Homo sapiens: one gene and its partners. The protein of the gene in region 3 interacts with the protein of the main gene of each other region in a pairwise test. Each region holds a gene or a part of one and is shown on either strand. Other genes may lie near its edges.

Region 1 (7,083 bases), on a different chromosome or scaffold from region 3:
TCTGGCTCACTGCAGCCTCTGCCTCCTGGATATCAAGCGATTCTCCTGCCTCAGCCTCCCCAGTAGCTGGGATTACAGACGCCCGCCACCACGCCCGGATTTTTTTTCTTTTTTGAGATGGGGTCTCACTCTGTCGCCAGGCTGGGGTGCAATGGCGCAATCTCAGCTCACTGCAATATCCGCCTCCTGGGTTCAAGCGATTCTCCTGCCTCAGCCTCCCAAGTAGCTGAGACTACAGATGCATGCCACCACGTCTGGATAATTTTTTGTATTTTTAGTAGAGACGGGGTTTCACCTTGTTAGCCAGGATGGCCTCGATCTCCTGACCTCGTGATCCGCCCGCCTCGGCCTCCCAAAGTGCTGGGATTACAGGCGTGAGCCCCCGCGTCCGGCCAATTTTTGTATTTTTAGTAGAGACGGGGTTTCACCATATTGGTCAGGCTGGTCTCGAACTCCTGACCTCAAGTGATCCGCTCACCTCGCCTCCCAAAGCGCTGGGATTACAGGCGTGAGCCACCACGCCCGGCCCTGTTTGACATTTTAATATCTATGAAACCCATCATGATGGGTCCAACAGGATGGATCCTACACAGTTGGTCCTGATGTTTTTATTTTCTTAGTGGTACACATAATAATGGCAAGTCTTACAAGCAACGATATCTAAGATTTGAAGGAATTCAGTGGCAAAAAATTTGGAGGAACATAGAAATAATAGTGTGAGTTAACTGACTGCTCATTTTAAAAGATGAAACCAAGGCTTAGTAAATCCAAGAAAGGGAAATACAAGCTTAGTATTATTTTCGAGTTGTATAACTAAATATCCAAAGAAATAAAAACAAAAAGGGATAAATGTGATTGCCTCCGGAAAGAGGTAGTGCAGTTATCGTTTTTCGCTACAAACCAGTCTATACTATTTTATTCTTACCACGTGCACATGCTTTTTTATGAACCGAAAACATATGATAGGAGGGATAAGTAAAAATACACAAAATCTCAGAGACTTCGGACAGGGACATTCACGCAGATACAGACAGAAAGACATCCAGGGGCAAAGGGTGTCAAAGTGAGAATAAGGTACCTCCAGAAATTTCAGCTGGCAGTGCTAATGGCGACCATGAATTTCAGACCCAAATTTTGCAAATCTCTAAAGCATGACATCAACACTTGTTGCCTACTGATGACAGGCCATTTTGCTTATCAGAAAGTCAAAATAAGGCCAGCAAAGGTCTGCAAATGTATCCTTGTGCACTGGAATGAAAACTCGCACTCGCTTAGGTGAATTACAAACTCTCCTTCGCTCAAACACTCAGCATTTACACAGCACCCTGTCACCTGCCCTGGTCTACTATCTGCACAGTGGTCGACTAAGGGGTACTAAGCACAGTCTCTACCCGAAAGCCTGACTATACTACGAGGAGGCAAAAGCTGGGGACAGAGGGCCGCTGCCTGAGGGGTAGGAGAACCGCAATTCTAAGAACGGTAGCCGTGACATGCACAAACCCAGCTTTCCTTCCCTGCGCAGAACCACCCGAGGGACCGCACCATCCCCGCTGGGACAGGACACATTTCCCCAGAGAAAGCTAACCAGCTAGCAAACCTAACTTGCCCGGGGCTGGCTGGAGGCGCACGGATCAAGCTCCGCCTCTCTCTCCCGCCTAAAGCAGGCGTAGAATCTTCGCAAAACGTCACAGGGCCAAGACTGAGCGCGCCAAAGCGGGACCCACCCCCAGGAGACGCGGATGCTGCGGGAAGGTCCCTCCCCTTCCTCTCTCTGCCCGCGCGAAGCTCATTCATTCTAGAGGCGGGCTGCCAGTCCTCCCCGGCCGCCCATCCCGGCACTGCAAATCCGCTAGACGCTTTGTCTCGCGCCGGCCGGAAACTGGGGCGCGCACGCGAGCGCGCGCTCGCGCTCCAGCTCCCCGCACCTGGGGCCTGAGGGGCCGCCTCTCCGCGCCGGCTCCCCGGATTCGAGTGCGAAAGCGGGAGCTCCTTCTCGGCAGTCCCAGGCGCGCACTTACCACGTCCCAGCGGGTATCCAAAATCTAGAAATGGGCATCACGGCCCCCCAGCGCTACAGCTCGAGCCCCCTCCGCGACCCCTGCTCCGCTATGAACTCTAGATTCTTTCTCCTTTCCGGAGACCGAGACCCTGTTCCTTCAGAAGGACGCGTGCATCCTGGCCTCTGCTCCCTCCCCACGGCAGAACCCGGTGAGCTGGTCGCCGCGGTTGCGCCCCCGCCCCTCCTTGGCGCTAACGCGGCCGCCAGCTAGCACTCACTTGAGGAGCAGCTGGTCGTGTTCCGCCTTGCACTTGCCCAGCTCGATCTGCAGCTTGGCGCGCTCGCGGGCCGTGTCGTCGAGCGCGCGTCGCGCGTCGGCCAGCTCGGTCTCGTAGAGCGCCTTGAGGCCGGTGAGCTCACGGCCGCGCACCTCCTCGCGCTCCGTCACCTGCAGCTGCAGCGCGCTGTTCTCCGTCTCCAGGCTGCGCACCTTGTCGATGTACACCGCCAGCCGGTCATTGAGCTCGCGCAGCTCCTCCTTCTCCTGGAGCCGCGACAGGCGCGTGGGGCTCAGCGGCGTGGTGGGGCCGCCAGCGCGGCTGCCCATCCGCGGCGGCACGGGGGTCGCAGTCGCCATGGCGGGCGGCGGAGACAGCGGGGCGGCGAGGCCGCGAGCGGGACCGTGATAAGGAGGGGACGGCAGGGGGCGAAGCGGGGACCGAAGGCACAAACCGGCGACCTGCGCTCACGTCCAGACGCTGGCGTTTAGAGGAACGGAGAAGCACCTGGGATGGCGGGAGCTCGATTACAGCACAAAGGGCAAAGGCGCGCGGGGGGGAACTACGAATCAATCGATCGATCGCGAAATACCCTTTGTAAGAAAACACACACACCCACTCACACACGCACGCGGGAAAATGCAAGACGAGGGTGACTGGAGGCCCAGCAGGGTTCGCGCCGCCGCCGTCTCCTGCTCGCAGCACTTTGTTTCCTCTCAGGCTGCACGGAGCGGCGGGCGGGGGGAGGAGGGCCGGGAGGGGCGGGCTGGAGGCAAGCCGCGGGGGGCGGAGGTGGCGCGGGCCGCGGCGCCGCACTCCCCAACATGGCCGGCACGCCCCGGCGCCTCCACGTGACTACCATGGGCCAATGGGGAGCAGGCAGCGCGCTTCGGCGGTTCGGGGGCCGGGCCTGTAAATTTAAAATCTGGCCCTTGGGCAACCGTCAGCTCGGCCCTCCCGGCTGGGCGGTTCCCGGACCAGGCTCAGGGCTGTAAGGAAGGACGCCTGGGACTGCCCACCCGCGCGGCTCTGGGCCCAGGGCCCTCCCGCCGCCCCGCGGGGACCCCTTGGAGGGGCCGGGCCTGAGAAAGGCGGGAAGGAGCCCGGAGGTTTCCGGGACGGATCTGCGCCACCGCCCACACTCGGCGGTTCAGGGAAATTCAAATATAAACGTCCCTAAAAGCCACACGCGAAACTCAGAGTGTCCCCGGCCACCGCGGGCGTGGTAACCTTATCCCCCGCTCCGCTGGAGGGCTCGGGAAACGGCCTGGAGGCCGGGACGCTGTGGAATTACGTAATAGGCACTTGAGTCCGAGGTTCCAAATGCACGGCTTGCAGGTTCCAAGTACCAGCCTTTATTTTTCTCTCCGGTGGAAAACTGTATCAGGCAACTTCTTTCCATGAAAGTGAGATCTGTGCGTCTTGAAGCCGATAGATTATCACAGAAAAACCAGCAACCCTGATTTTAAATCATTTGCCAACAGTGTTAATGGGCGGTTCCTAATCCGTTTCTTAATTTAAGGGTTTGTAAAATCAAAAAACAGCTCAGAAATGATACGATTAACATATGACGGTGAGTAACTACGAGAGCAAGCTGTTTCATACTCCGTTAAAATCAGGTACATAAAAATCTGAACTTGTGAAAATTTAAGATGAAATAATTTTTTGCTTTTAAAAAGAGGCTCCCAAGATGTCACTGGCAGCTACTTCTATTAGAAAGCACATTCATCCCTTTGAAAAGTTCCTAATTTTTAGCTAACATTTATTGGGACTGAGTGCCAGCACCAGGCTTTTCATGGATTACCCATCCACACAATCTCCGTGTGATGTGGGAAACTGGATTGTTTCTATTTGAAAATTCATCCGGGCGGGCGCGGTGGCTCACGCCTATAATCCCAACACTTTGGGAGGCCGAGTGGGGGAGGATCACCTGAGCTCAGGAGTTCAAGACCAGCCTGACCAACATGGTGAAACCCCGTCTCTACAAAAATACAAAAATTAGCCGGGCATGATGGCGGGTGCCTGTAATCTCAGCTACTTGGAAGGCTGAGGTGGGAGAATCCCTTGAACCCGGAAAGGGGAAGTTGCAGTGAGCCGAGATGGCACCATTACACTCCAGCCTGGGTGACAGGGAGACCCCGTCTCAAAAAAGAAAGAAAGAAACCATCCATTTTATAGATTCACTGTCTGAAGGCTGCTCCGCAGGACTGCGTTTGACAGGTCCCAGGATTCTAATTGACTCGAGTCTGGCCCTTAGCTATACCCTAGATGACCACCTTACCACCTATTAGGAACGCTTCTGTAATTAATGGTTACTTACTTTTAAAATGGCAGAAATGGAGACCAGGATATTCTTTAACTGTTAATCAAGTCATGTACATAAGAATTAGTGAAGAGCACTGGGAGCTGCATATTCATCCCAGATGAATTTTTGGCACTCTGTGAATGATGACATTCTCCTTATTAATGGTTCTATTTCCTGTCCGGTTTCCTAAAATACTTCCTTGCTTTTTGGGGGGTGGGGGGGTGGGGGGGAGGATGGCAGGGAGACGGAGTCTTGCTCTGTCGCCCAGGCTGGAGTGCAATGGCACAATCTCAGCTCACTGCAACTTCCACCTCCCGGGTTCAAGCGATTCTCCTGCCTCAGCCTCCTGAGTAGCTGGGACCAACGCCACCATACCCGGCTAATTTTTTGTATTTTAGTAGAGACTGGGCTTCACCGTGTTGCCCAGGCTGGCCTCGAACTCCTGATCTCAGGCAATCCGCCCGCCTCGGCCTCCCAAAGTGCTAGAATTACAGGCGTGAGCCACCGCGCCTGGCCATGAAATACTTCCTTTCTTAACCTCATTGAGAAATAAAGAATCGAAAAGCTTAGACTTTAAGTATTCAAGTAATCTTAAAGGGAACTTTAAAATCTAAATTACTGATGAGAAAACCGGCCGGGTGTGGTGGCTCAGCCTGTAATCCCAGCACTTTGGGAGGCCGAGGTGGGCAGATCACTTGAGGTCGGGAGTTCCAGACCAGCCTGTCAACATAGTGAAACCCCGCCTCTACTGAAAATACAAAAATTAGCGGGGTGTGGTGGCGCGCGCCTGTAGTCCCAGCTACTCCGGAGGCTGAGGCAGGAGGCAGGAGAATCGCTTGAACCTCAGAGGCAGAGGTTGCAGTGAGCTGAGATTGCGACACTGCCTAGGCGTCAAAGCAAGACCCTATCTGCAAAAAAATAAAAAAAATTTTTTAAAGTTAAATAAAATAAATTACCGATGAGGAAATTAGACCAAAAGAAGGTGAGTGCTGGGTCCCAGGCTGTGGAACCAGGATTGGAATGTAAATCTGCTTGTTCTCACTTGGTTGTGAGACCCTTTCCACTACGACAGGTGATATAGTCAATCCATATGGTTTTATGGTTTTCATTCCTTGCTCCCCTTTACCTGTCTTTTAAAAATACTTGGTTGGGAGGCCGAGGCGGGCGGATCACGAGGTCAAGAGATGGAGACCATCCTGGCCAACATAGTGAAACCCCGTCTCTACTAAAACTACAAAAAAAAAAAAAAAAAAAAATAGCTGGGCGTGGTGGCACGTGCCTGTAGTCCCAGCTACTCGAGAGGCTGAGGCAGGCGAATGGCTTGAACCCGGGAAGCGGAGGTTGTCGTGAGCCGAGATCGCGCCACTGCACTCCAGCCTGGCGACAGAGCGAGACTCCGTCTCAAAAAAAAAAAAAAAAAATTGTCAGTTTTCTTTTAAAATTATTTCCTGTCCATTTTTTAAGTTTTAAGATTATATGTGATTCCAGCAATGATCTCTATTGCTCTCAACCCCATGAAGCTTTGTTTTTTGTTTTTGTTTTTGTTTTTTTTTTGAGACAGAGTTTCGTTCTTCTTGCCCAAGCTGGAGTGCAGTGGCGCGATGTCAGCTCACCACAACCTCCATCTCCTACCTCCTGGAGGGTTCAAGCGATTCTCCTACCTCAGCCTCCCGAGTAGCTGGGATTACAGGCCTGCGCCACCACACCGGGCTAATTTTGTATTTTTAGTAGAGACGAGGTTTCATCATGTTGGTCGGGCTGGTCTCCAACTCCTGACCTCGTGATCCACCAGCCTCAGCCTCCCAAAATGCTGGGATCGTAGGCGTGAGCCACCACGCCCGGCCTGAAGCTTTCTATTGATAGAGTTCCTCAATTTTCAGATTATTTGAAGAGGCTCACATTATACATATCCTATTATATAAAACAACTTTCTTGGAGTCAGACAATTGAGGATGTGCTACTGATAGCTGTATAACTTTAAGAAAATTATTCCGTGATTTCCTTCAAGGAAAATGGAAATGGAGCCGGGCACAGTGGCTCACGCCTGTAATCTCAGCACTTTGGGAGGCTGAGGCGGGCGGATGACGAGGTGAAGAGATCGAGACCATCCTGGCCAACACGGCGAAACCCCGTCTCTACTAAACATACAAAAAAGTTAACTGGGCATGGTGGTGCGCGCCTGTAGTCCCAGCTACTCAGGAGGCTGAGGCAGGAGAATCTCTTGAACCCAGGAGACAGAGGTTGCAGTGAGCCGAGATCGCGTCACTGCACTCCAGCCTGGCGACACAGCGAGACTCCGTCTCAAAAACAAAACAAAACAAAAAAACACATGCCGGGCTCGGTGGCTCATGCCTGTAATCCCAGCACTTTGGGAGGCTAAGGCAGGTGGATCACCTGAGGTCGGGAGTTCGAGACCAGCCTGACCAACATGGAGAAACCCCGTCTCTACTAAAAATACAAAATTAGCTGGGCGTGGTGGCGCATGCCTGTAATCCCAGCTA
Region 2 (7,026 bases), on a different chromosome or scaffold from region 3:
TTGATATTCCCCTCCCCCATAGCAAAATATTATTTAAAAAAAAAAAAAACAAAAAACAGGGTGGAGAGGAGGATAGGAAGGGGACAGTTGATAAAACCCCAGGGCCACAGCAGAGGCAAAGGGCATCTGGGGAGAGGGTTCGAAGCTGTGGCGGACTCCACTAATGTAACCCTCCAATGTCAAGCCATGGGCGTGATCAGTAGCTAAGTGATGACAAGGCTGTTGGGGGTGGACGGAAAAGACTTGGGGCAAAGCAGACTGTTTATAGCCTGAGCTGGTAGGGCCTGGTGCAGCAGCCTACCCGGAACTGGCACTACTCTTTCCCAGGTTCCCTGACTCTCTATCCTGGTCTCTGAGAGCGTGCCCTACTTCCGTTTCCCCCACTCCAAACACACCTGAGGCATCTTCCAGTGCTAGGCCCCATGCTGGCCAGCAGGGGTCGGGCATTGGGCCCAGGAGCCTCTGCAGCGGTGTGAGTCAGTGGCTTCCCTGGGGTATCCGTGGGGCTCCCGGGCCCTCTGGATGCCAAATCACTCCTTTCACTGCTTTGCGCCTCTCTTCTCACACATGCACTGCCCCAGACATCAGCGCGGGAACTGAACCAACCACCTGCTCCTGAGTTTCCCTCACTGGGTCCTTGGCAGGGGTGGCTCTGCTATGGCTGTTCGCACATACTCTCTGAAGTTCCCTCCCTCCCACCCACCCAGGCAGGAAACCAAGGTCTGTGGGAACCCAGGGCACCTTCTGACCCAGTACACACATTAGTACACATAGGGGCACAGGTCACTCATGTGAGACTTACATGAATCTCTCCACATACACCCCTATCCCAAAGAGACTAGCTGTAAGTGGCAGGGACAGAGGGCTCTCATTTTCAAAAGCATTTTTGGGAGGATAGTTTTCTAAATATTTTAAAATGGTTTACAGGGTACTGGAAGATGTGGGGTGAATCATCCCAGAAGTGAAGGACAGGAAAAGCCCAGATCCAGCAGAACCCTTGAACAGGAAGGGGGCTGGCTCACATGCAGAAAGATGCCCCTGCTTGCAGGGACCACAGGGCTGATCCAAGGACTGAGGTCTAAGTTCTGGACCACATCAAATGGGAGTGTCAGCATAGAGCTGTAAGAGTACATGGCAGCAAACACTCCTCAGCGTCTCCCCAAAAGGATCTCAGATGCTGTCAGGGAAAATCGAATGGGTGCCATGCCTGCTTTCTTTTTCCCTGAAATACTCATACCACAGAGGTATGGACAACCCCCTCCCCAACCCCACCCCTCCAGAATAGGTAACAGCCAGGAATCATTGCTGGTATCCATTCTTTACATTTTCTGGGAAATGAAATCATACTTTCAGGAGTTTCCCATCTCAGACCCTACTGACAGCTTGGCACTCAGGTTCAGCCAGTCTCCATGATTACTAAGACAGTTCCCGTACCCGCCACAGGTCAGGTCAGGTTACAGTGGGGGTCAACCAAACCCCAAAACTTCCCATAAGGATTCTTTCTTTAGCAGAAAGAAAAGGTTTATTTCACCTTAGAAAATTCATGTTCACAAGCCCTGGCTTGGGTTAGAAACATCCTAACCACCAGGCTGTTGAATTCATCTTAAAAAAAAAAACCCTCCAAAACAAAAGCCCTTCTGTTCCCCAAATTGTGTTCTTCAGCTCCTGCTGAGACCTCAAGCACCCTTCATGTTTGGGCAAGAGGAGGCTATTTTCCACTCATCCTCCCTGAAGGTGAGGGCCAGAGAAGGGTTTGGCTCAATAATATGCCATCTCCTGCAAGCATACAAATACATGCATTCATATCTCACACACACTCTCTCTCACACACACACACACACCCGATTACTTTTTTGGGAGTGGACAAGGTGGTGGTATTGGAGCAGAGAGGAGCAAAGAATATGGTTAAGAATGGAACCTACATTAGGTTTCTTCTTTAGTCTTTTCTCTGCAGCACCCCCACCCCCATCCCCCACACTCTGTTGGGTAGGGATGGCCATCAGGAAGCAAGCCGAGATCTTGTTTTTTGGGACCAAAGGACAGACCCCTCCCTACCTCCTCTACCTGAATACAGTGATAGGACTTGGGGAGGGAGAACAGCTCCTACTGCTCAACAGGCATGTCAGAAGACCCCAGATTCCTTTGTTTCTTGAGCAGCTGTTAGCCAACTTGGGACCAGTCTTGGGTTGTTCCTAAGAGGGCACAAGGAGAGAGAACCCACTTTGACTTCCATGACTCCTTGCTCAACACATCTGTCTCACTTTAGGAGTCAATGGCAGCGAGGTAGCCACATACCATCTCCAAGACCGACTCCCCAAAAAAAGAAGAAAAGGGCTTCATGGGCCACTCTCACCCAAGTTTCCTCCTAAAGGCATTTGAGCTGATGCCATCAGGTGCCAATGTGACATGGGCCATGACAACACCCACTGGCACAACTCTTCCTTTTCCCTTGAGGAAGGAAGAGGTGCCATCCACTTTTTGGATCCAGCCCTTGTCTGCTCCACCCCGTTTTTCCTTTTGTCCCTACAGTGTATAAGGAAGCCAAAGTAAGCTCAGCTGCCATTCCTGACCTTATTCTTCCTCAAAAAGGAGGCGAAGTGCAGGATTGTGAAACACTGAGGAGCTACTGCAACTAAAAACCCAATTTTTGGGGAGAGCTGGACCAGCTATAGTCCCTACTTTGGACCAGGACTCTTATGCCTCTGGATTACCTGTATCCACAGTTTACCCGCTGAAGTTGCTTTTGGATAAACAAAAACAAGAACAGAACAAACAAATCCCCTTCCCCAATCTTTTCCATTTCAGCTGCCAGCTGGAGTCCAAGGTTGTGGGAGCCACACTTCAGTCTTGGTCCTGTACCTTGAGTCCCCACCTATGACCTCAGCCAAGGGTCCAGGGACTAGCTCCCCTACCCAGGAATGCTGTAAGAACTTCCCCGAGATACTCATAGTCTCAGATTATTTACAGAGCTGAGGTTCTGGGGCCACTGTCCCCTGATGCACTCTTCTGGTCTCCTGGGTCCACTCCTCCAGGAGTGGGACAGGTTCACATGGGGCGGTGGTGGGACCATCAGACCAGAGGGGGTGTGCTCTTCGGCAGGTTCTTCTGATCACTCCCACCACCCGGGGCCCCTTGCGCCTATAGAGAAAACTGCCCGTCGGAAGTCTTGGACTGGCACCCTTGGCACATCCGTTTGTGTCTGAGTAATCGATCTGTCCGAGAAAAACACTGAGAAGAAAGGGAGGGTTAAGTGCCTGAGCAGACAAACGCAGCTACCTGTTGGCTAACTCATTCCTCTCACAGGAGGCAGATACCACATTCTCCATCCCCTCAGCACGTGCACAGACAGCAGGAGCACACGGTGGTGGAGAATCCAAGCTCTCAGGCCAGACCGCCTGGGGCTGAATCTTGGCTCTATCACTCAGCAGCTGTGTGACCTTGGGCAAGTTACCTAACAGCCCAGAATCTGCATACTCATCTGCAAAACTGCAAAGCGAGGCTAAAAGTACCTACTCACAGCACAGCTGCTTTATTCATCAAAGATTTATTGAGTATCTATCTCAAGGCAGATACAGAGTAGAGAACCAGAGGAACAAAGTCTCTGCCCTCATGGAGCTTTTATTCTAGCGTCTGAAGATTCAGTGTAAGAGTGCAGAGCAAAGCTTGGGACCTAGCAATGCATCCAGGAAGTGTTAGCTATTATCATTTCTCATCTCTTGTTCTTGTCTTGTTTTGGCCCCAGCTCTTACATTCTCATCAGATCAGATACTGACCCCCAGGGCAAAGATTGTATCTCTTCCTCCAAAGTGCATTAGCTCTGAAGTTGGACTGAATCCCAGCTCTGTTCGTGATCTGCGGTGTCCCTGGGAAACTTAACTTCTCTGAATCTCAATTTTCCCATACGTGAAATAAGGACAATACAGCTACCTTAGGGAGTCAATGTGAGGATTAAATAAAATCATCTATGTAAAGTATGCTCTCACAGTGCCTGGCATAGAGTAAGTGATATGGAATGCTATTATTATTATTATTACAATGTTCTAATTGCTGCTCCCCATGATCAGCTGCATAAGGCCAGACAGATGCACTTCACCCCGATGTGTTAACTATTATGGCGAGTAACGCTGGTGGCTCTTTTGTCAGGCAGGAGTGGAGGGTGGCCCTGATTCTTGGGGAAGGAAAAGTGTGTGTGGGGTATTGTAGCAGGGATGAGCCTTACCTGATGACACCGTTCACACTGGTAAGGCTTTTCACCACTGTGCACACGCTTGTGGCGTTCCAGGTGGTACTTCTGGATGAAACGCATATCACATATATCGCATTCAAATGGCTTCTCACCTGGCCCAGGTGGACAGAGAAGTGAATGTGGGGAGGTATGTACAGTAGGGACCTCATTCCAGTTTTCTCAGAAACTTTAACTCTTAGTAATGTGTAGACACCTAAGTGATCATAAATGGGGAGAGGTCCCCAAAGGTGCTGGTCTCAGTGACACCAGATACAAAGCCATGCAATCTCTCTGCTTCATTGACTTATCTTCTTCCTTCATTTCTAATACTTACCCATTAAAATAAACCCAACTAGAGCCACAAACAGACATGGAATACAAGCGATAGACTATTCTCCCCCTTTTGAATATAAACAAGAGACTTACCAGTGTGAATAAGGATGTGCCTCTTTAGGTGGTAACTGCTCCGAAAGGCTCCAAAGCAGTGTTCACAAACAAAATTTTTGGGAATCTTTACTTGAAAAGAACCATTTTGTTCCACTACCACCACCTGGGGGCAATAATCAGGCATGTCATGAGGCCACCACTGCCCTCTTCCTGGAGACACTGTTCTACTCTGGGTCCACTTCCAGCTGTTGGAGAAAGGAACCTCTCTGATGCTGTCTAAAGGTGCTGCCATCTCCTGTACTCCATGGAGGTAAGAGACCCTTTGGGGAAGGAGGTGGAGTGGGTAAGCTGTCTATCCTGTCAAACCCAGCAGTCTGAGTATGACTTGAGCTGGAGCCTGCCTGCTCCCATGCCTCGGGATCTGGGATCTCATGCTCCCCAACCTGTACCATTACTGTTCCAGCAAGGCAGGAGATCAACTACCAAGGTAGTCTCTGGATGAAATCTGGGGGACTCACTCACTGGCTATCAGAGATCAAAGCATCTAGGGAAAGCTCCAGGTTACATGGTAGAGGGAAGAAGGAGGAATATTACCCCATTACCAAACTGTATGAGTTTGGGGGATCACCCCATTACCTGCCTTTTTAACAGTCTTTTTTGAATGAGAGGCCTCAGACAAGCTGTCATCATCTTTGCGGCTCCGGGACTTATCACTGTCTTTTCGGTGACCCTTTGAAGACAAATCAAATCTAAACTCATAGCCCATCTCGGAACATGAGATGAGACCCAATGCAGCTCTCAGACAAAATTCATAAATGAGAGTAAACCACCTGCCCCGAAAGCTTAGAGGAAGTATACAACTATTTCCTCTCCAAGCACCTGGTCTTAAAAGAGTTGAAGGCACACAAAAGACCTTCCTTAGCTTTCTGAAATACCAATGTTCATCCATTCCCCAGTTGGATCCCCTTGCCCCACTTCCCTATGAGGAAGCATCAAGGAATCAGAGCTTGGTATCTCCTGGCAGAGAGCTTGGGCCACCCGATCCCCAGGTGCCACAATGGACTCAAGCGCTGTACCTGACTCGAGCACCTCAGCACATCAGGGCTACCTGCCCGCTCGCCATTCTCGGCCTGCTTGCTGGCAATCTGGCTCAGCATCATCTTCTTGCTGGCTGCAGTGGGAACCAAACTCACACCTGCTAGGCCTTCACAAGCCAGGAGACTTGCCTAAGTTGAAAGGAGATGAGGTGTCAGGTCACCTGGCAGGGCAGGGCAAAAACAGACTGCCATCCTCTATAGAACTACCTTTTACACCCTGCTACAAACTGCTTCTCTCCAGGGAATGTCCCTCCTCACTGCCAAAGCCTTGCTTCCTTCAAGAGTCCTCCCTAACTCATCTCACCAGGAACGACTTATCTTGTCATCCTTCAGCATTTAAATATAGATCAAGTAAATAATCAAGTATTACTGACACCTTTGTCATCAGCACTAGGCAGTGTGTGGCTACATATTTCTTTGAAGGTATTTCTAGGCCTTAACTGTGAGTGGGTATGAGGTTCCATCTTGCTAACCCACTGACACAGGAGATTCCTTCAGGACCTTCCTCCTTCCTCCCTCAACAGCCCTCAGCTGGGCCGAGTGCAGTGGCTCACACCTATAATCCCAGCACTTTGGGAGAATGAGGCGGGCGGATCACGAAGTCAGGAGTTCGAGACAAGCCTGGACAATAGGTGAAACCTTGTCTATACTAAAAATACAAGAATTAGCCAGGTGTGGTGGCACACACCTGCGGTCCCAGCTACTCGGGAGGCTGAGGCAGAAGAATTGCTTGAACCCGGGAGGCGGAGGCTGCAGTGAGCCGAAATCGCGCCACTGCACTCCAGCCTGGGCAACAGAGCGAGAATCCCTCCGTCACTCACACACACACACACACACACACACCCCTTAGCTTCAGAGCGCGCGCGCGCACACACACACACACACACACACACACACACACACACCCCTTAGCTTCAGAGCCCACTTTTGATTGGCAGATCTTGCTGGTGCCAACTGTATTTTCTATCGGTTTGTTTCATTTTTTGCTTGTTGGTTGAGACAGGGTGTCACTCTGTCGCCCAGGCTGGAGTGCAGTGGCACGATCTCGGCTCACTGCACTCTTGACCTCCCTGGCTTAAGCGATCCTTCTACCTCTACCTCCTGAGTAACTGGGACTTCAGGAGAATGCCACCACACCCGGCTATTTTTTTTTGTATTTATAGAGACGGGGTTTCACCATGTTGCCTAGGCTGGTGTGGAACTCCTGAGCTTAAACAATCCTCCAGCCTCAGTCTCCTAAGGTCCTGGGACTACAGGCTATTTCTCCCTTTAGATTTTAAACTCCCTAAGTATTTACCAATTGCAACTGATATGATT
Region 3 (7,026 bases):
TCTTGCTGACTTCAAGAATGAAGCCGCGGACCCTGGCGGTGTTACAGTTCTTAAAGATGGTGTGTCCGGAGTTTGTTCCTTCTGATGTTCGGATGTGTCTGGAGTTTCTTCCTTCTGGTGGATTCATGGTCTCGCTGGCTTCAGGAGTGAAGCTGCAGACCTTTGCAGTGAGTGTTACAGCTCTTAAGGCGGCGTGTGTGGAGTTTTTCATTCCTCCCGGTGGGTTTGTGGTCTCCCTGGCCTCAGGAGCGAAGCTGCAGACCTTCACGGTGAGTATTACAGCTCATAAAGGCAGTGCGGACCCAAAAAGTGAGCAGCGGCAAGATTTATTGCAAAGAGCGAAAGAACAAAGCTTCCACAGTGTGGAAGGGGACCTGAGCAGGTTGTCCTGCCTCTACTTTAAAATGGCGTTTTCAGATGTGAGAGATGGAGATGGATAATTAAATTTAATTATACATTAAATAAGGCCTCTGACTACCTGTTTGTGTGAATTTCTCTGTGTCAGCTTCAAGTTCAGCATTCCATGTAGAAATTGGCCCCATGTACTTAAAGTACAGTTTAAAAATATGTTATGTGCTTTCTTGGTAAATACATTAGTAATTGATTTGGGTTTCTGGTTCAAGATGACTTTCAACAGATTAGCATATTAATTCATTTATTTTTCTAGCTGTATCCAGCACGTAATTGGAACTCAATTTTTAAAAATGTTGAATGAACAAATGCTGACTTCCACTATCCAAAAAGGGAAGTTTGAAGAGAATAACTTCACTGATTCATTTGGGGAAATACATCTATCTATGTATTTTTTTTTTTTTTTTTGAGACGGGGTCTCGCGCTGTCACCCAGGCTGGAGTGCAATGGCGCGATCTTGGCTCACTGCAACCTCCGCCTCCTGGGTTCCAGCGATTCTCCTGCCTCAGTCTCCTGAGTAGCTGGGATTACAAGCGCGTGCTACCACGCCCGGCTAATTTTTGTATTTTTAGTAGAGATGGGGTTTTACCATGTTGGTCAGGCTGGTCTCAAACTCCTGACCTTGAGATCCACCCGCCTCAGCCTCTCAAAGTGCTCGGATTACAGGCGTGAGCCACTGCGCCCGGCCTATCTATGTATTCTTAGATCATTTTTAAAGATTCTAAATTCCAAAGTGTTTCTGAAAATTATCATAATTATCTTTGTATTGTCACAGGGGAAATCAAATAAGCTTTAATTTTCCCTACATTCTTTAGCTAAAAACAATTATATAGAATGATTTTAGTTCTCAGAGGTGGGGACATATTTTTTAGCTATCTTTTTTATCATATTTCTTTTGTTTTCTTTTGATTGTCCTAATGTTCTTCTTGAAATATTTTTATTATTAAATATAACATATATACAGAAAATGTCATAAAACATGAATGTGTAGTTTAATAGTAGAAAGTGAATACCCAATATCCACAATAAAGATCAAGAAATAGAACATTAGGCTGGAAGTGGTGGCTCATCCCTGTAATCCCAGTACTTTGGGAGGCCAAGGTGGGAGGATTGCTTGAGCCCAGGAGTTTGAGACCAGCCTGGGCAACATGGCAAAACCCTGTCTCTACCAAAAAAACACACAAATTAGAGAGGCATTGTGGTGCATGCCTGTAGTGCCAGGTACTTAGGAGGCTGAGGTGGGAGGATCACTTGAGCCTGGGAGGTGGAGGTTGCAGTGAGCTGAGATTGGGCCACTGCTGCACTCCAGCCTGGGCGATGGAGCGAGACCCTGTCTCAAAAAAAAAAAAAAAAAAGAACATTACCAACACCCCAGGACCCCCTTCTTTTGTCTCTTCTCATCATAATGCCTTCATTCTTTCCTAGGGAAAATCACTACCCTCATTTTTGTGATAATCAATTCTTTGCTTTTCTTTATAATTTTATCACTGTGTATGCACCTCTAAACAATATAACTACTTTTGCTTATTTTTAAAATGTAGATGAAATCATGCTACATGTGTATGTATTCTTTGTGTCTTGCTGCTTTTACTCAATATTATGTTTCTTAGAATCATCCATGTTGCCACATGGAACTGCAGTTCATTCATCTTCATTGCTGTATGTGGAAATATACTATGATTTATCCATTTTAATGTAGATTGACATTTGTGTTTTTTTCAGTTTTGGGTAATTGTGAACAAGATTGTTATTAATAGTCTTTTGGCTGCTATGATCTGACTTTTTTTTCATGTATCCTGTTATATATGATTATTTAAAGATTATATGATTAAGAACAAAAAAAATCCAAAAAGTTCTATAGATAAATTATTATAATTAGTAAGAGAGTGCAGCAAGGTTGTTAAAGTCAATATACAAAAATTAATTATAGCTGGGCACAGTGGTTCATGCCTATAATCCCAGCATTTTGGGTGGCAGAGCCGGTTGGATTGGTTGAGCTCAGAAGTTCAAGACCAACCTGGGCAACATAGCAAGACCCCATCTCTATAAAAGATTGTTTTAATTAACTATATTTCTATACATAAGCAACAAACTAAAAATGAAATTTAAAAAGATGAGAAAGGGAAACTTTGTCATCGATAGTTCTTTGAAATGTAAATTAATATTTAAAAATCAACAGATCCCTAAGACTAAAATTTGACAAAAGACAAGGAGATCTTTTGGGAAAAATTACAAAGCTGTAGATTATTTTAGATTTTCTATATACACAATCATTGGCACACAATGACAGTTTTCTTTCTTCCATTGCAATGCCTTTTATTTATTTGTCTTACCTCATTACTACCTTCACTATAATGCTGAATAGAAGTGATGATAGCATGCTCCTTGTCTTACATGGAAAGCTTTCAACATATCACCATGAAGAATGATGTTTGCTCTCTCTTTTTGTAAATATATTTTGTCAGATTATTCCTATCATCTATTCTTACTCAGTCTTTATCATGCACAAATGCTGGGTTTTAAACAGAGGCTTTTTTGCGTCTATTGGGATGATCATATCATTTTTCTCATTTACTTTTTTAATGTGACGAATTACGTGATTGATATTCTAATGTTATATCAACCTTATGTTCTTGGGATAAACTCAACTTGGTCATGCTGTTTTTTTTTGTATATTATTAGTTTCAATTTCTCTATATTTTATTTAGAATTTTTACAAGTTTATGGGTGAGATTATCCTATAATTTTTTTCTTATTACACCTTTATCTGGTTTCACTTTCAAAGGTCGTGCTAACCTCGTAAAATTAATTGAGGAGGCCAGGTGCCGTGGCTCACGCCTGTAATCCCAGCACTTTGGGAGGCCGAGGCGGGCAGAAGTTCGAGACCAGCATGACCAACATGGAGAAACCCTGTCTCTACTAAAAATACAAAACTAGCCAGGCATGGTGGCACATGCCTGTAATCCCAGCTACTCAGGAGGCTGAGGCAGGAGAATCGCTTGAACCCGGGAGGCGGAGGTTGCAGCGAGCCAAGATCATGCCATTGCACTCCAGCCTGGGCAACAAGAGTGAAACTCCATCTAAAAAAAAAAAAAAAATTAGTTGAGGAGTGTATCCTGTTATATATGTTCTTCTGTTCTTAAAATAATTTGTTTAAGATTGAAATTCTTGGCTGGGCGCGGTGGCTCACACCTGTAATCCCAGCACTTCAGGAGGCCGAGGCAGGTGGATCACTTGAGCCCAGGAGTTTGAGACCATCTTGGGCAACATGGCAAGACCCCATCTCTACAAAAAAAAAAAAAAAGATTGAAATTCTTGGTCTTTGCATGTTTGATGGAGCTCATCAGTGAAATCATCTGACCCTCTTACTTGTGGGAAGATATTTGATTACCAATTACATTTCCTTAATGATTATAGACTATTTAGGTTTCTAAAATTTCTTTAGTATTGGTTAGATACATTTTTCTAGGAATTTGTCCACTTTATCAAACTTATTAGCATAAAGCTATTCATTATGTCCTCCTATAACCCTTTTCACGTTTGAGCATTTGTGATGATGTCCCTTTCTCATTCCTTATATTGGTTCTTTGTTCTCAATTGTTCTCACTTCCTAATCTGAGTCCTGGGGATAAGTATAAGTAGCCAGTAGAGAAAGAAGGCAGGAGTATTGGAGGCAGAGAAGCAGCATGAGCAAATGCACTAAAGTGAATATATTTGGTATTGTTTCCGTGAAAATCTTGAGGCGAAGAACAATTTCTAATGAGGCTAACAATTAAGTAATGACAGGTCTTAAAGACAGTTTAAATTTTACCTTATAAGAGATTCAGACAACCAAAGAATTTTAACCAAGGAGAAATGTAGTCATATTTTCATTTTTAAGAATTATTCGTTAGGTACTAAACACACATATGCTAGGCATTGATGAATAATATCAACAAGACAGGTTCTCTACCCTTGGGAAGCTTACAATATAGTGGGAGAGGCAGTCATAGAAACAAATTGTAATAGAGTGCAATAAATGCCAATAAAGAAACAAAGTTTATGAGGGCAGATAGCTTACTTTGAGACAGAAGCTTGAGTTTTTTGGTGTAACTTTTGATTAGTTCCACTCAGCATCTCTAAGCATTCTCAGGCTTACATGATAGGCAAACATCTAGATCTCTTGGGAGCTGTTAAAATAGGATGGCCTGGGCCAGGTACGGTGGCTCACGCCTGTAATTCCAGCACTTTGGGAGGCCAAGGCGGGCGGATCGTGAGGTCAAGAGATCAAGACCATCCTGGCCAACATGGTGAAACCCCATCTCTAAAAATACAAAAATTAGCTGGGCGTGGTGGTGTGCACCTGTAGTCCTAGCTACTCGGGAAGCTGAAGCAGGAGAATCGCTTGAACCTGGGAGACAGAGGTTGCAGTGAGCCAAGATCGCACCACTGCGCTCCAGCCTGGTGACATACCGAGACTCTGTCTCAAAAAAAAAAAAAAAATAGGATGGCCTGGACAAGCTTTAGTACCCAATCTGACTCCTTTCTGGATTTGTTTCCCTCGACTTGTATTTTATATTTCAACAGAGCACACATAATTCAGTTTGAAAACCAGTGGTTTCTCTTTCCTTCCCTATAGGTGTAAAGAATATCCAGCTGGTGGCTACAGTTCCCCCTCTGGTTTTGCTGCCATGCATCCTGGGCGAACTACTGGTAAAGGGCCCTCTACTCACACTCAGATTGACCAGCAACCTCCACGGCTTCTCATTGTGCACATTGCTCTACCGTCCTGGGCTGACATCTGCACCAACCTCTGTGAGGCTCTGCAGAACTTCTTCTCTCTAGCCTGCAGCTTGATGGGCCCCAGCCGCATGTCCCTGTTCAGTTTATACATGGTACAAGATCAGCATGAGTGCATCCTCCCTTTTGTGGTAAGTATATCTATATTTATTCATTTTACCCTGAAAGCAAATACAGTGGTAAGGTTTCTGGAATAGAGATCACAGTTATTAATACTTATAACAATAACCGCACTACTTCTCCACACACAGTAGCCCCCGAGTAACACCATGAGAGCCAGAGGGCATCCTGCATATATAGGGGTGTGTACTGTTGAAGAGAAAATCCAAAATTATTAATCTGGGAGTATAAATAGGCTACAAGCTCCACTCCAGAGAGAGGGAGAGAAACCTTGGCATTGACAGATGTTTGAAATGTAAACAACTGACTCCTTTTATGCCCTTTGAAATGTAAACACACAAGGAGGGAAGCCTCTAAATCTCTTCTGAGGTCTCTGACTATTCAATCATCTTTTAACTTCCAAGACTTGCCCTTTAACCCAGGTACCAGTTTTCTTTGCTCAGAAAGCCCTAACTATGCAAAAACATGAAAATATTTTTTCTACATTCCACATAGACTCAGGTGAAACTGCCCCCTAGGGTTATGGAAGGCAATGGCTGGGCCAGGGGCAGTGTCTTTACAAAGCTCCTTCATACATAAACAATTATCTATGCTCCTCCTCAAAATTTCAATCTTCCCTTTCTCCCTTGTATAAAATTCAGAATCATAGTGAAGAGAAAGACTTCCAGAGGTTCTATGCATCTCCTTCCTTGAGGTAGCCTTGCTGCTAATATACGTTATCAAATGGATATAAGTCTTATTTAAGATTTCCAAAAGAGGAAATTTCATAAATCCATTGCTGAATTATGAATGTAATATATGACTGAAATCTATTTTTTTATTAATGCCTTAGTTTCCCTCATTGGAAGTGGAAAGATAACATCTCTGTTGATACTATAAAGAATGAAAATAATATATATTACTTCATGCTTCTTGAGTTAGAACATACCCTGGTTGCTTTGACAGAACCTTAGGCTTATAACAACTCATGGTTTATTTCTTGACAAAAGTCACACAGGGAAAGTTTTGAGTATAAATGCTCCAGTGCTAAGTATGGGGATTTTGTCTGTGCATTGTTACTTAGGCTGGGTTGGGGATGGGAAAAGGATAAAATTATTTAAGAAATTCAACTGATCCTTTCTACAGTTTGAGCAGAATTTGGTACCTCTATTCATTGTTTATTGCTGTGTAACAAATTATCCCAAAATGTAGTGGTCTAAATTAATAAACATCATCTCATAGTTACTATGAGTTAGGAATTCATAAGTGGCTTAGGTAGATCAGGCTTGGGGTCCCTCATGAGATTGTAGCCAAGATGTCAGTCATCTGAAAGCTTGATTGAGGCTGGAGGATCCAGTTGCAAGATGGCGTATTCACTTAGCTGTTGGCAGAAATTCTTGTTTCCTGACCACTTGGATCTCTCCAAAGGGCTGCTTGAATGTCCTTAATTTGTGGCAGCGGGCTTCTCCCAGAACGACTGATCCAAAAGAGAGAGAGAGCAATGAAGAAGCCAAAATACCTTTTATGTCTTAGTCTCAAAAGTAACATGTTGTCACTTCCTCCACATTCTGTTCATTGGAAGCAAGTCACTGTTCCACCCTAGATAGAATAACAGCAAGCTGATTTACCCTCTTGCCTCAAACAATAAAAAAAAACTGGATAAAACCTATGAAAAACACTTTTCAAAACACTGGACATCACGCAGCAAAGAACAAAGCCCCCTGGGTGATAGGAAGT
Region 4 (6,896 bases), on a different chromosome or scaffold from region 3:
GCCCGGGCTGGAGTCCAGTGGCGTGATCTCGGCTCACTGCAACCTCTGCCTCCCAGGTTCAAGTGATTCTCCCGCCTCAGCCTCCTGAGTAGCTGGGATTACAGGCGTCTGCCACCACTCCCAGCTAATTTTTTTTGTATTTTTAGTAGAGACAGGGTTTCGCTGTGTTGGCCAGGCTGGTCTCAAACTCCTGATCTCAGGTGATCTACCCGCCTTGGCCTCCCAAAGGGCTGGGATTACAGGCATGAGCCGCTGCACGTGGCAGAATCAACATTTCTTGAGACCCCTTCTATGTTAGAGGTTTTCACATAGTTTTCTCATGGGAAGTACAGAATAATTTTACTAAGTCTTTGAAGTGACTCTTACATTGGCTAGAATCAAATAAAAGACTTAAAGCAGAACCTTAGGCATGGGTAGAGTTGTGATTGCCCTCACACTGGGCCCCTGCCCCTGGGCCATGACCAGAACACATAGGGTTCCAGCTGCCCTTTGATAGGAAACTCCACACTGTGTCTGGGGGTCTGGGTACCTGCAGATCAGGCCAGCCTTGAGCAAAACTGAATGGAGATGGCAAAGGCTGTCTCTGCTTCTTATGGCATTTTCCTACTCTCTGATCCTTTGTAAATGACAGAGCATGGCATCATGAGATAATCAACTAAAGAACCACATGATAAAAGTTTACTGGTTTCACAGAAAGTAATTCTTCCATTTAGTTATTTTAACTTCATGAGGTTCCTTGAGAAGATCCTTCAGGAATGATCTTAAGATGGGAGCCATTTTAGACACTTACATGGTAGATGGGGGAGATATATTTGTTAACAAATGTATGAGATATAGTTTACATATTATAAAATCCACTCATTTCTCAATAGCTCTATGGTAGAAACAATTGACGTGTCTATCCATGGATAAATGAATACATAAAATGTGGTATATACATACAATGGAAAATTAATCAGCCATACAAGGGAAGGAAATCCTGACATGTTATAATATGGATAAATCTTGAAGACATTTTTCTAAGTGAAATAAGCTAGCCACAAAAAGACAAATACCATATGATTCTATTCATATGAAGTACTCAGAGTAGTAAAAAAACATAGAAACAGAAAGTAGAATGGTGTTTGGGAGAGACAGAAAGGGGAGTTGGTGCTTAATGAGTTCAGGGAGCAAGATGAAAAGAGTTCTGTGAATGGATGGTGGTGGTGGTTGCACAGTGTGAACGTACTTAATGCCACTGAACTGAAAATGTAAAAAAGACTAAGATGTTAAATTTTATGTTATGTGTATTTTGCTACATTTTAACAAATAAAAAATTACTCATTTAAAGTGTACAATCCAGTGGTTTCCTGTGTATTTACAGAGTTCTACAACCATCGCCAAAATCTAATTTTAGGTTGTCATCATTCCACCTTCCCTGTTCCCCCAAAATCCCTCCTACCCATAAGTAGTCACTTAGGGAAGATATTTTTAACAGGCCATCGGTGTCATGCCCTATTTTTCCAGGACTTGACACTCATAGACTCTTAGAAGGGACCTTAGAGATTTAGTTCAAGCTTCTCAGATGAAGAAATTGAAACTCAGAGAGGCAAAAGGTCACATAACTAATTCGTGGCAGAGCCAGGTCTTTTGACTTCCTATGAAGTTATTTTTCCCATTACAAAAATGCTGTGTCATTCACTTTCTTCCAACTGATGCTGACAATAGATTCCTGGTGTCAAGAAGATGCTACCTTTTCCTGCTTGGGACAGCTGAACTCCTTTCTACAGCCTCCCACCTCACCCGCCTGAGCTGGGAAGCAAAGAGAAAAGAAAGAGTGGAAAAATCTGCAACTGTGTCCAATAATGTTACCTCATGCCTTAACAATGTTAGGGATGAGTTATAATGAGTTTTATTGAGAATAATGTCTCAGCCCCTCTTAGAAGAGTAATTGGAAACACAGCGACTTTTGAAAGACATTGCCTTTTGTAAAGGTGGCAGTGGTAACCTGCAGCAAACAGCAACTCTTGCCTTTCTACTTACAGTGGCACTTAGGCCCGGCAGTGCCATGGCCAGGCAGTGCCATGGCCAGGGAGGTCATTGGATAAAAGTTGGAGTCAAGGGTATGGTGGAGGGACTAACTCTGTGAGTTAGAGCTTTCAAAATGTGCTCCAATATTCCTTCTGAGCTCATTGGTCAATTGAAGTATTTTCACCTGCCCTTATTTCCTGGGGGGCTGGTGTAGGGGTAGGGGGACTCTGTGGTTGCTAAACATTGCAAATGAGCAACCAAGTAACAAAGGCCATGGAAAATCACGTAACTATGGACTTGGAAATATCTAGACAAAGTCCTGAAGCCTAATCACAGTGAGATTTGGGCCTCTCTTCTCTTCTGGCCTTTGGTTTTTCGGAGAATTTGATCTATCTTCCTCAGGGTGATATAGGCCCTTAGGAGTGTTTGGAATTTCTCCACCCAGGCTACTCAAGAGGCAGGTACTCTAAATGTCCTGTGGGTTTCCAACTGATGAGAAACCCAACTGGAGAGATTGCTGTGGGGAATCACGTAGGCTTCTAGACAATGAGCTCCCTGAGGACAGTGACTGGATTCTGCCTCTTTTCAACAGCCCTATAGACAAGGATGTAATAACCCCCATTGCCAACCCAAGACCTTGGCATTTCTGCCACATGATGCTGCTGTTCGCTACAGTGACTCATTTTTAAACTCCTAGTGCCTAGCAGAGTGCCTGGCACATTTGTTTGCTGAATGAGAGAATGAGTAGTGACATTTCATATCAAATGATGCATTATTATTTACAAAGTGATTTATTTCCCATGCATGAACTCATCCTCATAACTACCCCTACTTTACCCCGGAAGGTAGGCAAGACCATTTTACAGATGAGGTCACACAGCTGTAGGTTGGAGAGGTGGCTTTCAGACTCTAAATTCATTGGCATTTATATATAGGCATCATATTGAGACTGCCCTTTCTAAAGTACTCTGTCAAAGGACTAAGAGATATGAATAGGGATTCAGATGTTGACCTCAGATTTAGGAACAAAATGCAGAAATCACAAATGTCCATCTGAATGGTGTCTCAACAATGGCATTATTTTCTCCTATTTGCTAATCACTGCAAGGCATATAGGTTTTCAATTACATTATGAGTTACATAGAATAGAATTTAGGGTCCAGATGGGTAAACTGGTGAATCCCCATGAAGTTTGTAGTAGCTATTTCCTGATACAGATTTGATATAATAACACTGTTGTATGTAATACAGTTTTGGTAATTTCAGTTAAGTAGATTGTAGCTTTATTGCCCTGGGTCTTCAAGGAAACACATGTTCAAATATTCTCACTGCTTAATGAGATCCTTGTTCCTGTTGAACTTATGTGACCTTATTGGAAATCAATGATTGCTTTTGTTCTTCAAAATGTAATGTTGAGGAGACCTAGATGAAATCACTCTACAAAATGCATTGAGATTGCAGGATGTGGAGAATGTGCTGTAATTAAAATGAATGATTCTGCTTGGAGGTACAGCATATTTTAGCTCTGTGTGCATATCGTGCATAAGGGAATTTCTCTATGCAGAATTATTTTCTCCCAACAATTCTCATGATCACAGCACTCCTGGTAGCAGGTATCACTTAACTCCTGGGCAGCAGCTTGTCCAAAGCAAGGGAAAGGGAGCTTTCCTTTCCTCGCAACTGTTGCTATGGGGGGCGTGGCTTCGGAGCTGGGTGAGGAGGCGTTCGGCGGCTCCCTCCCCCCCCCACCCTCGTAGACTACACTTCCCGTGATGCTCGAGGGAATGGTCTCCGTGGTGACGCACTTGGTGTCCGCGGAGGGAGGACGAGGACGGGGGCGGCGGCTGCTGCGAGGGGGGGCCCGTGCTCTCCCCGTTTCCCTTAGTCGCACTCAGGCAGCCGCCGCCGCCGCCGCTGCCGCCATGTTGGTTTGAGAGGCGATGACAGGAGGCGGCCGCGGCGTGTGGGACTGAAAAGTGAAGGAGGAGGAGGAGAAACAAAGCTCTGAGAGGAAACCATTCCCGGGCTGAGGAGAAGGAGGACCCGGCCTCTTCCGGGGACCAGCCGAAGTCGGCGTCGCCCGGAGCTCGCGAGGCCGGGGAGGGGAGGGGAAGGGAAGGCGGAGACCGGGGAGGCGGCGGCGGGGAAGGCGGAGGCAGAAGAGGAGTGGCGAGGAGCCGGAGACGATGCGCCCCGACCCCAGCTGCTGTCCGGAGGCGCCCGCGGCCTGAGCCCAGAGGGGCTGTGGAGTGTCCCGGCCGGCCCCGAGCACCCCCGCGCTGTCGGTCCCCCGCTCCGGTCTTTCGCTTTGGCTTCCAACTAGTTAAATGCCCTTGAGCGCGGGTTTCCGCGGCCCGGCTCTTCGCCCCCGCGGCGCGAGTTGAGCCGTTTCCCCGCGCTGTCCGCGCGGGCGCTCCGACAGCGGCTCTGCAGGGTCCGCGGCCAGCGTCCGGCCACCGCTCGGCCGCCACTCAAGGCTCACGCGTCGATGTGTAGCTACATAGTTATCTGTGTACATCCACGCTGGGGCATTTTTCTCCTGCTTAATGAGGACTTGACTCGGGAGCAAGTGTGAATCATTGCCGGGGCTGGGAAAGGAGGAAGGCGCATTTAACCCCCTCCCACCCCTCTCCATGTCCGTGTGTCACTCGGCTCGGTCCACCTGGCGCGGCCGGTCCTGGGGCTGCTGCTGCTGTTGACGACGACGACGACGACGGGGGCTGCCTCTGCTGTCCCGGGAGTTTCCTCCTGCTCCGGCCACACAGCTCCTGGGGATTGTTCCTCTTCGAACCAGAACCTCGGCCTGACCGGCACTTTGGCTCCAAAATAACTTTATTTTTGGGGGAGAAAGCACATCACGAACCAGTCAAAATCGTGGTTTATTTCTGTAACGTGAAGACTTCTGCTCTTTTTTCTTTGTTTGTTTTTTTCGTAAACATCTGGGTGTATATCAAACGGCAAGATGTCCAGTAATGTCCCGGCGGATATGGTAAGTGACGGATAAGTTATGACACTGATTTAATTGTGGTTTCCAATCTTATTTAATCGGAAAGACGGCAGGCGTGGGGCGAAGATTTGCTGGGGACTGTCGAAAAGCCACTGTGCTGAGCGATTTGGAGAAGTTGGAGCTTCTGGTTTCCCCCTTTTAGGAAGTACTGCTTTTAATATGGGTTCTCTCATTTGGTCGTGTTTTCTAAAGCATTGAAGATAGTGGAGAAGTAGGGAAATGTATCATGGTAGCTTGAGGGGACAAAACATCTCCCTCTTCGCTAGAAGCCTCCGAACACTAGTATTTTAACGTTTCTGAAAACGTCAGGGACAGTGGGCAGAGCTGAGGACGGGTGTCCCTACGAGAGAATAGGTAGGGAAACGGGAATCTTGCTTTATGACACAGACGAGATCGTCATTGCAGTAGGGACGAACTTGATATTTTTCAAGAACAGGGATGCACATCTCTTCAAGAAAAAGTATGTTAGAATTTGCTGTGAGGTTTTTGAAATGTCTGAATACGGATGGCAACAGAAATATAAAGATATTTTGGGATTTTCAGAAACGTAGGCTGACCCTGTATTGGTACTTACAATGAATATTCCAGGGCTTTTTAATGCCAGATATTTATTAATAGTAGATTCCATATTAGACATAAAGCTAAGGAAACATAGTATTGAGCCTCGATCACTGAGTGTTGAGAACTTGAAACAAAAAGTACTGTTGTTTATTGACGCCTTTCTTTGTTTTGTTTATAAAGGGTAAGGTTGTGAGTCGGTTGACTAACAGTAACCGTGTAACCTTACAGTGCTGGGGCTGGGCTTGTGTGAGTGTGAAGTTACATTTTGCAGTCCTAAGGACAAACATAATGCATTTAATTACCAGGAAGAGGAATAATCCTGTTTATGAAAGAATTGAAGTTAACGTAGTTGTGCTCACATATGTTAACATTTGAGTGTTTGTGTATTCAGTGGAAACAAATTGAACTTTGCTGATGATTAAATTTTATTTTATTTTTTAATTTTAATTTAATTTTAATTTAATTTTTATTTTTTGAGACGGAGTTTTGCTCTTGTTGCCCAGGCTGGAGTGCAATGGCGCGATCTCGGCTCACTGCAACCTCTGCCTCCTGGGTTCAAGCGATTCTCCTGCCTCAGCCTCCCAAGTAACTGGGATTACAGGTGCCCACCACCACACCTGGCTAATTTTTTTTTTTTTTTTTTTTTTTTTTTGTGGAGACAGGGTTTCACCATGTTGGCCAGGCTGGTCTCAAACTCCTGACCTCAGATGATCCACCCATCTTGGCCTCCCAAAGTGCTGGGATTACAGGCGTGAGCCACTGCGCCCAGCCTGCTGATGATTAAATTTTAAAACGCCAGATGTTTCTAGAGGAGCAAACCTCATATACAGATTTTATAACAAAAATTAAATGATTCTAAATGGCTTATTTTGACCTTGGTTTAAAGGAATTTTGCTCTTGTTTAATTTCCCATTGAATGCAAAGGAAACACAGTGTTCTGTCTCTGGGGGTGGCCACATAACAGCTTTACAGTCTCCTTCCTGAGTCCTAAAACTCGTGCGTTGTCCTTTTAGTTTTCGCTTCTCTTCTGGTGTGCACACATGAAATAGCCTCCTGCCTGGTTAAGTACGGCTGGACAAGCTTTCCTCCATACTGCTCTTGAAGTTGCCGGGAGCGGTCTCTAGACAGAGCTGGGAAATGCTATTTCCCTTGTTTGATGAGTGATCTGTGGGTTCATCGCCTCGAGCAAAGATTTGCTCTCTCGAAAGCCTCCATTTTATATCATCAAGCACAGTGCAAAATAGGTTAACCTTAAGTACCGTCTATTCTCTCACAGACGTTGGAATGAAATAGATGTGTTATTAAAACAGTGCCGCTA

What was found.
Region 1: the proteins of M1AP (region 3) and LMNB1 interact in binary tests that used the Homo sapiens proteins (3 or more experiments, as listed by UniProt).
Region 2: the proteins of M1AP (region 3) and ZNF740 interact in binary tests that used the Homo sapiens proteins (3 or more experiments, as listed by UniProt).
Region 4: the proteins of M1AP (region 3) and UBL3 interact in binary tests that used the Homo sapiens proteins (3 or more experiments, as listed by UniProt).

Annotation. Positions count from the first base shown.
Region 1 is NC_000005.10:126,773,062-126,780,144, reverse strand, and holds the start of LMNB1 (lamin-B1), read right to left. Parts: upstream 3,010-7,083; 5' UTR 2,637-3,009; coding exon 2,278-2,636; exon of another isoform or gene 1,795-2,277; coding exon of another isoform or gene 1,586-1,794; intron 1-1,585. UniProt on the Homo sapiens protein: Lamins are intermediate filament proteins that assemble into a filamentous meshwork, and which constitute the major components of the nuclear lamina, a fibrous layer on the nucleoplasmic side of the inner nuclear membrane.
Region 2 is NC_000012.12:53,183,703-53,190,728, reverse strand, and holds part of ZNF740 (zinc finger protein 740), read right to left. Parts: intron 5,839-7,026; coding exon 5,689-5,838; intron 5,343-5,688; coding exon 5,253-5,342; intron 4,776-5,252; coding exon 4,652-4,775; intron 4,339-4,651; coding exon 4,220-4,338; intron 3,229-4,219; coding exon 3,139-3,228; 3' UTR 1-3,138. UniProt on the Homo sapiens protein: May be involved in transcriptional regulation.
Region 3 is NC_000002.12:74,638,331-74,645,356, reverse strand, and holds part of M1AP (meiosis 1 arrest protein), read left to right. Parts: intron 1-248; exon of another isoform or gene 249-269; intron 270-5,029; coding exon of another isoform or gene 5,030-5,081; coding exon 5,082-5,321; intron 5,322-7,026. UniProt on the Homo sapiens protein: Required for meiosis I progression during spermatogenesis.
Region 4 is NC_000013.11:29,847,615-29,854,510, reverse strand, and holds the start of UBL3 (ubiquitin-like protein 3), read left to right. Parts: upstream 1-3,893; 5' UTR 3,894-4,972; coding exon 4,973-4,999; intron 5,000-5,078; exon of another isoform or gene 5,079-5,477; intron 5,478-6,896.